Homo sapiens: one gene and its partner. The protein of the gene in region 1 purifies or fractionates together with the protein of each later gene. This does not show direct contact. Each region holds a gene or a part of one and is shown on either strand. Other genes may lie near its edges.

Region 1 (5,575 bases):
ATATAAATTAAGTTGAAAATATAAGTAATTACATATAAGTCATATATCTTTATATTCATTCTAGGCCGGGCACAGTGGCTCACGCCTGTAATCCCAGCACTTTGGGAGGCCAAGGCTGGTGGATCATTTGAGGTCAGGAGTTCGAGACCAGCCTGACCAACATGATGAAACCCCGTCTCTACTGAAATACAAAAATTAGCCGGGTTTTGTGGCCAGCGCCTGTAATCACAGCTGCTGGGAGGCTGAGGCAGGAGAATCGCTTGAACCCAGGAGGTGGAAGTTGCAGTGAGCTGAGATGGTGTCATTGCACTTCAGCCTGGGCGATAGAGCAAGATTCCCTCTCAAAAAAATAAAAATAAATAAAAATAAAATATCTTCATTGTGTAAGGCAAAGTTTCTAATAAACAGTGATTTTTTTTACTAGCATACAATAAGGACAGTTTCATATTTCTTTGCCTTTGTGTACTTTCCAGACACATAGACTAAAACGAAATGTTTAGTTTTTCCTTTACATTGTGTGTTTCAATAGACATCAATTAGCTGTCTTCAGTATGAACTTGGGATGAGGGCAATAAGAAACCCTATGTTTCCAGCCTCCACTAAGATGAACTGGCAGTGTGTCAGGAAAATTCCCAGTATGGAGCAGTTTTATTACAATTCAGTACAGTTGGTTCTTGCATAACCTTTAGAAAATCATACATAAAACATTCACATCTATATAAATAAAAATCACCCACACACTTTATTAATAGCTTTGTTCACTTTTTTTCCTGGGTGTTATGCTGCATGTTCCTACTGAGCCCCTTTTTTAAGTCTTTTTAAAAGATAACTTTAAGCTTTCTTAAAAGCAGAAAGGTTATGGTAATATTAGTAATCAAATATAAGTGTAAGATAATTCTTGATAAGTCCCATTAGACACATATCTCCCTCCTGATCACATACTCTAACTAGTGTCTAACTGTCCTTTTTACATTTAGTGACAGGGACTGGCTTATTCGCTAGATATAGCCAATTTAACTTTAGGAAAGAAAAAGGGACAGAAGATTGTACTTTCTTTCATTTGTGATAATGTTGGGGTTTATTTTAAAACAACTTTTATGGTTATATTACTGTTAGTTTGACTGCAATAAATACATGGGAAAGTGATTACAAGAACATACAAGTAGTCTTGGCCTCCTTTTTCTTTAGCTAGAAACATGTTTTAATTAACCAGAAGTGTATTTTCAGGTGTCATTTTCCTAAATCCAAACTTTACAAAACTTGCCATATATTCCCCCAAAGTATGTGGTATAAAATATCAAAATAATTTAATAATAAGCCTCTAGACTTAACTACCAATTTATAGGAAATATAAGAGCTAGAGAAACATGTTAAATGGCATCACTGTCCAGAATGTGGGAAATCTACAGGACAAATTACCCAATTTCTTTAACAAATGAATAACAATAGGGAGGGGAAGATAGGTAAATGTTTTAGATTAAAAGAGATCTATAAATCAAATACAATATGTGGACCTTGTTTGTATCCTAATCTGAGCAAACCAACTGTAAAAAGATACTTTTGAGACAGTTTGAGAAATCTGAATGTTGACTATTCGATGACATTTTAAAATTATCAATGTTGAGAAGCATAATAAAGGTATTGAGGTTGAGATTTTATTTAAAATATTCTATGAAAAAAATAAATTTGGAAGTAATAGCTAAGACAAGAATGACAAAATATTGTTAATTGTTGAAGCTATGTGATGTAGGTTTGCAATTTTCCGTAGTATAAAGTTAAATTAAAACACACACACAATGAGAAGGGAAAAAAAATAGATCATCACTGTAATAGGAAGCAAAACTATATTCACTTTAGGGTAGCAATTTAGTTTCAGCCAACAGTGGCATCCTATAAATTAAGTACATAATATATTAAATTTGGGAGAAGGAGAGACAGGCCAGTCAGTCAGTCTGTCCTCTTTCCTTCCCCTTCCCCTTCTTCCTTCCTTCCTTCTTCCCTCCCTCCCTCTTTCTTTCTTTCCTTTCTTTCTCCTTTCTTTCTTCCTTTCCTTCCTTCCTTCCTTCCTTTCTTCTTTCTTTCTTTCTTCCTTCCCTTCTTCCTTCCCGTCTGTCTTTTTTTCTGTCTGTCTTTTGACAGGATCTCACTCTGTTGCTGAGGCCGGAGTGCAGTGGTGAGATCACAGGCTCACTGCACCCTCAACCTCCTGTGTTCAAGTGATCCTCCCACCTCACCCTCTCTAGTAGCTGGGAGTATAGGCATGTGCGCCACCACGGCCAGCTAATTTTTGTATTTTTTGTAGAGACAGGGTCTCACCATGTTGCCCAAGCTGGTCTTGAACTCCTGGACTCAGGCGATCCACCCGCCTCTGCCTCCCAAAGTGCCGGGACTACAGGCATGAGCCACTGCGCCTGGCCAGGAAAGGCATTTCTAATTCAGCCTTACCTAACCTACAACTCACTGCCCCCTTTTCTCCTACTTAATACCATAAAATTGTAGGTGATAATGCATTGTTTGAAAAGAATGATGGGCCAGGTGTGGTGGCTCACACCTGTAATCCCAGCACTTTGGGAGGCCGAGGTGGGTGGATCACGAGGTCAGGAGATCAAGACCATCCTGGCTAAAGAAAAGAATGATGAACTTCGAATGGAGCAGATGGACCTAGTGTTTGCAGTGAAACACAAGTGTCTTTGACTTCAGCTTTAGTCTCCCTCCTATGCCATTTGTGGCATTCCCCTGGGACTGCCATACTATAATTGTGGAGTCAGTTGTATGCCATTTCCTCATAGCCAGAACTTTTGAGTTTATATATTATTCTTTGATAAAATACCTATTTTACAACAGGACATTCTTTTTTTACCTTTCATTGTTTTTGTTCTGTAAAAATGAATACTCTTAGTGAGTAGATTAAGCGCTTTACACACATAATTTTGTATAGCATAATTTACCTTCTAGGAATTTTTTCTTTCCTGAGACTCGATTTCATGGTATTTTTCTAGTAGAGCCTGGGTCTAATCAGAACATGGAACTGTACACAATTGGTATTTTGATACTTATCCATATCACAGCAAAGAAAAGTTTGTAAAATAAATGAATGTTGAAAGCAGTTTCTTCAGTGGACCTGCTTTTCTAAGTGGGAACATTGGTTTTCAATGCTGTGAAGGCTTGGCTGAGATGATCTAGAAAGGAGCCCTCACAAATCTGCATTTTAGAACAAATGCCTTCTTTCTGAATTCTCTAGTATTATTCTACCATGACAAATTTAAGAATAAGCCAAACAATTTTTAAGATCCAACTCCAGCTATAATTGAAATTATTAAGGCACCATACATAAAAGTAGTTATTTTACATTTGAACATATTTGTGTAATCTATTTTATCAACGTATCTGTAATCATCTATTTTATCAACCAAATTTTGAGTTCTCAAAAGATCTGGAGTCATTTCTGTCAGTGTAACTCTACGTAGCCTCTGTCATAATAATGTGAAAGTAGAAAGATACTTGCTAAATATATCTTGATTAAACCTGACTTGTTTCATCTCCTAAACCTAGAACTTTAAACTCAGAACTTTGGTTGATAGGAGAAGGTTTAAGTATAAAAAAAATGTGAATAAGACTGCATTGTGAAAAGTATTACTACTAAGAGCATTTTTTTGTATTATGAAAAGTACCGTAAGATAGTCATGGAATTTGGATAGTGGCCGGGTGCAGTGGCTTACAACTGTAATCCCAGTACTTTGGGAGACCTAGGCAGGTGTATTATTTGAGCTGAGGCATTCAAGACCAGCCTGGGCAACATGGCAAAACCCTGTCTCTACCAAAAAAAAAAATATATATATATATAATATATATACATATGTAAAATATATATTATATAATATATATTATATTATATATAATATATGTATTATATAATATATAAAATATATAATATATATTATATAATATATAAAAATATATAATATATATTATATAATATATAAAATATATAATATAATATATATTATATGATATATATAATATATAATATAATATATAAAATATATATAATATAATATATATTATATAATATATAAAATATATTATATGATATATATAATATAATTTATATAATATAATATATATTATATATATTTTATATATTATATTATATAATATATTATATATATCATATAATATATATTATATATAATATATAAAATATATATGTACATATATAAGTAATATATGTACATATATAATATATCTTATAAAAAGACAATTTCTTATATAAGAAAGTTGAATAGGTACTGGTAAAAATAATAGTTGTTACTCTTTATTAAGTACTATTTGTCGAGCACTTCACTAAGCACTCTATTTACAGTCATACATTGTGAAAGTGTGCTAAATTTATATACTACACAGAGTTTTCAGTTGGGATTTTTGAAAAATATAAATGCTAGAAGAGTAATGATTGTTTAATAGTCTGTATAATCTCTGTAACACTGGGGAAATACATCATTTTCTTGACATAGTTGGAAGTACTGTAAAGAAGGCATGCTTTCTATAACATCTTATTAAAATTACCCATCTTGTGATGAAAACTGATGAAATTAGTATAACCTCTCATCATGATGGCCAAGCTTTGTGACCCTTTATTGGAGTGGTTTTTATTCTAATTATTAACAAGTTTGGTGTCTGAATTCATTCGATATCTAATAAAATTGTTGACAAGGAAATGTAGTTTTGACACTTCAGAAGAGACATTTTCTACTTTATAAAATTAAGTTCCTACATGTGAAATTTGAGAAGCCACCAAAGTAAACATTCTATTATTCATTTAAAGCTCTTAATTGAGCCGGGCGCGGTGGCTCACGGCTGTAATCCCAGCACTTTAGGAGGCTGAGGCTGGCAGATCACGAGGTCAGGAGTTTGAGACCAGCCTGACCAACATGGTGAAACCCCGTTTCTACTACAAATACGAAAATTAGCCAGGCATGGTGGCAGTTGCCTGTAATCCCAGCTACTCCAGAGGCTGAGGCAGGAGAATTGCTTTAACCCAGGTGGCGGAGGTTGCAGTGAGCCGAGATCGTGCCACTGCACTCCAGCCTGGGCAACAGAGCAAGACTCCATCTCACACACACACACACAAAAAGCTCTTAATTGTATGAGCACCTCTATGCCATTTAGAGGCAACCAGTATTAATATTTAAAATTCAATTTTATTTAAGATTGTATTATCAATGTTAACAACCAGACTGAATAATTAAAGGGCCATTAAAGTAATACATAGGAATTAAACATTTTGTATAGAAGAAAAAAATTAAAAACCCTCTTGGTTTAAAATGAAATATTAATATAAGACAGGTGTTTTTGTTTGTTTTTAACTAAATAAGGCTTTTTTTCCTAAAACTATGACATCATTAATAACTTCCCCCATACTCCAATAATAGACAGTTTTTCCCCATCATCTCCCTAGTACCTAGGGCAAACTTACAGTTGTTCTTCGCAATATGAATGGAATGGTAAAGCCTGGAAAGTCCAGTAAAATATATTATCTTATAACTGAGTTTTTCTCACCAAATTTTTAACCACA
Region 2 (3,921 bases), on another chromosome or scaffold:
GTTATAAATTAGGACACCATCCAATGTTATGCAATTGGGATCATACAGTATGTATCATGCTTTTTCACACATCATGAATATTTACCAATTCAAAATTCCAAAGCTATGTAAATGTTTGTTTGTATACACAGCAAAGTAAAAGGAAATGCAGATATAAGGGACAACAGTCAATTGTGTCATACTGTAAACACACTGATATAAAGCCCTTTGCACTTTCTTCTGCTCCTTCCTCCCTGAATCAGCATAAATATAATGTGAAGTGGTTTGATCAATTTCCAAAAGACAATGTTTCATATGAATCAAAAGGATATCTACAAAATGTGTTATTTACTACCTCTACTTTTAACATACTGTGTGCACTTCTAAACATCTAGAAGACTAGATGTTTCAAATAAGGACTTAATTTTGTCCACTATATGTCCAGTAGTGTTACTACTGGAGGGTGTCCAGGTTCTTGGCTTCTTGAACAAATAATTGGACAAAATGCACAAACAAAGCAAGGAAAGAATGAAGCAACAAAAGCAGAGGTTTATTGAAAACAAAAGTACACTCCACAGGGTGGCAGAGGGCTTGAGCATAGGGGCTCAATAGCCCGGTTACAGAATTTTCTGGGGTTTAAATACCCTCTAGAGGTTTCCATTGGTTACTCAGTGTATGCCCTATGTAAATACAGAAGACATTTCCCATCATAGCTGAAGTGTTTCCATTTGATTTAGTTCTAGGAAGTGAGCATGCATCTGCCTTATATTCCTTGCCTACAGACCCTATTCTTCTGCCTCATTTCCCTCCAGAGATGGGATCCCCATAAATCTTTATGGGAGGTGGAGGGGCCGATGGTCTTTCTTTTGTAACTGCTTCATGTTGGCTTGAGGCCTAGTCCCTACCTATTGAGGATCACAGAAGTCCTGCTCTGCTCTTTCTAGTGAAGGCAGGGTAGCTCCTTGATGGCCAGGGGTGGTGGAACTGGATGAAACTTTTGTTGCATGATCATCTGAAGCTTGATGGTCTTTTGGCGAGAGGAAATTAATTTGGTTAAAAGATTTAATGGGAACTCAGGGGGTGGATATCTATGCTGTCAGGAATGTTTGTTATAGAGATTTGTAGGAGAAAAACAAAACCTGGCCTGTGGTCTGTTCTAGGATCTATGTGTTTCCTTAAGGTCTTGGCATACGTGACTCCGTTTTGGTTTAGTTTGGTCTGTTGGGGCCTGGCGCATGGGCTCAGTACAAAAAAATGACCTCCCATAATTTTGTTTAAAAAAAATTCCCCTTTTTGGCCAGGTGCAGTGGCTCACGCCTGTTATCCCAGCACTTTGGGAGGCCGAGGTGGGCAGATCATGAGGTTAGGAGATCGAGACCATCCTGGCTAACATGGTGAAACCCCGTCTCCACTAAAAATACAAAAAAATTAGCCGGGCGTGGTGGCAGGTGCCTGTAGTCCCAGCTACTCGGGAGGCTGAGACAGAAAAATGGCGTGAACCCGGGAAGTGGAGCTTGCAGTGAGCCGAGATCGTGCCACTGCACTCCAGCCCGGGTGACAGAGTGAGACTCCATCTCAAAAAAAAAAAAAAAAAAAAAAATTCCACTTTTTTGGTCAGGTTCTCACTTAAGTGAGAGTGTGACCAAAACTTAGGGCCTTACTTAGCACCACTCTCAGTTACCAACACTTTGGGCTTTTGGACTCAGCACATCATTCGTAGGTTACAGTGTCCTCATGGCTGCAATTTCTTTCAGCTCTTGTCATTCCAGTTGAAGAGAGGCCATTTGACATTCTAGAGGTGGCAGCATGCAAACATTTAAAACCGTTGAGAGAATACAGCACACCAGGGAGACTATTATTATGACTATCAGGAGGATAATACCAAGAGTTGAGAGTAAGTATGCTCCTTATCCAGGGTCACCATAAACCAAACCTCCTAAACTCAAATAGATTAAACAATGAGCTAAAGAGTCTACTCACTTAACTAAGCAGTCTCTTCATTAATTTGCTACAACTGAATCTCTATAATACCTGATGTTTTCTCCATAGGCCATGAGTGCCAGCAGCTGCACAGATACTCTTCTGTTTAGCCAACTCTATTATTTAGCATAACTTTCTTAAGATAATTTAGTCTATTATGTAACCATAGCCTTTACAGTAAACTGCTATGGAGCCTATTATGAGGGATACATTTGCCTCTTTTATTCCAAATCATGGAAAAAGGACCTAAAGCTGGCTGCAAAATTCTTCACAAATAAAAGTATAACCCATAATTGTACACAACAGATCCTTTTTCCACTTCTATTCTTCATAGAGGCAAAAGCAAGGAAAAAATATTCAAAGATAAGAGTCTCATGATAATAGAGAAGTCTTGATTCATGATCTTGGGAAAAGCTGTTCACATCAAGGATGCCATCTTCTTCGGGAGAGAAACTTCCCTGGTTAGCTTTACCTTAAGGGTTCCAATGGGTGTACAGTTCCAAGAGTGTGGAGGGACTCTTCTCAGTTGTGAGATCATGAACCCAAAGTTCAAAGTCCAGAAGTTTTGCTGTAGTGTGGATGGCAAGGACAGTCTTTATCCAATGTTTTCAGAAGATACAATCTTCAGTTTCTAGGTTGTGAAGGAGTTGATTGTCCTCAGTGAACCATAAAAAGCTTTCTTTACCTTGTGAAAATACTTGGTGGCATAATAACTTAGTGTTATAACATCAGCCCTCTTGCATGGGAAAGCTTTTATACAACCAGAAAACATGCACTGAAAATAACAATTGAATAAAATCCCTCTATAAAATGTTTAAATGGCCTATCAGGTGACTGGATGTACCTGAAGCTTTGATTGTTTTCCCAGGAATATGGGACCAAACATTGGTTATAAACTATTTTAGCAATTTATAAGTCACCACATCAATATATTCAATTTGGATCATTTTATCTTTTCCGTGACGAGTCATGTAATGCAGAAATTTTACTAACAAAAGCTTTAACGACTTAGGAAGGACAAGGTGGCCATCCTGGTTCTCCATGAGTTCATGCTTAATTAACATTAGACTCATATCCTCTTGAATACCAGTTGTTTCCCCAAATTAGGTGCATAACACTGATAACTGATGGGTTATCATAGGTAATTTGATTTAAATGATGGAGTTTATTCAAATTTTATATCTAAACAGTTTCAGTATCAGCTGATTTAGCATGAAAATCTGGCAAAGTATTTTCTTGGTATTTAATTAATTTTTGTTCTACTTGGGTTAGCAGTTTTAGAACTCAGTCAGTCTTTTCATTAAAGTTCCAGGAATTCTTACCCAGTTCAAATGATATAATTCTAAACTTATTAGAAACCTGTATTCAAGAGTGCTTTTTAGGGTCCTTTCCAATCTTTCATGAATCTCCTAAAAGACACCATATTCTAGGACTTTGCATGCTTGTGAAGTTTTCAGAAACTGCATCAGCATTAAGCAATTAACTGTGGAAATGACTTTAAATAGTTATAGTTAAAAACACAATTGACAAGGAAATTTGGTTATTTCTGTGGTCTACAATAACATAATAATCATAATTATGATTGATAGCATATACTCAGACATATTGGAATTTTAGAAATCTCATACAATTTTGGAACATATATTAATATTATTCACTAAAATATAACCTGAAGAAGATTAAATTTTTTTCTTTTTGACAATGCTTCCCATGTAATTAAACATGTCAAATAATTCTGTTTACCTCTCTTTTGGATGCTTCAGGGGCCCTCTGCAGCATCTCAAAGTTAGAGGTTAGAAAAGACAATTTTGAAGCTGAAATTTGATTTTGGGAAGCCTATTAAATATGTTAAAGATTTAAAACACTTGACATTATGAAATGGAATTCCAGGTTACCATAGTCATTCATTTAGCAAAATGATGACTCAAAAATGTTTTAAAAGGCAAAAACCTTTCCATGTTG

The links. The genes of interacting proteins can lie anywhere in the genome.
Region 2: the proteins of CIRSR (region 1) and TF purify together in Homo sapiens (affinity purification with mass spectrometry; one large-scale study listed by BioGRID and IntAct). This does not show direct contact.

What each region holds. Positions count from the first base shown.
Region 1 is NC_000002.12:174,353,026-174,358,600, reverse strand, and holds part of CIRSR (corepressor interacting with RBPJ 1), read left to right. Parts: intron 1-5,575. UniProt on the Homo sapiens protein: May modulate splice site selection during alternative splicing of pre-mRNAs. Regulates transcription and acts as corepressor for RBPJ. Recruits RBPJ to the Sin3-histone deacetylase complex (HDAC). Required for RBPJ-mediated repression of transcription.
Region 2 is NC_000003.12:133,793,229-133,797,149, reverse strand, and holds the end of TF (serotransferrin isoform 1 precursor), read right to left. Parts: 3' UTR 509-3,921; downstream 1-508. UniProt on the Homo sapiens protein: Transferrins are iron binding transport proteins which can bind two Fe(3+) ions in association with the binding of an anion, usually bicarbonate.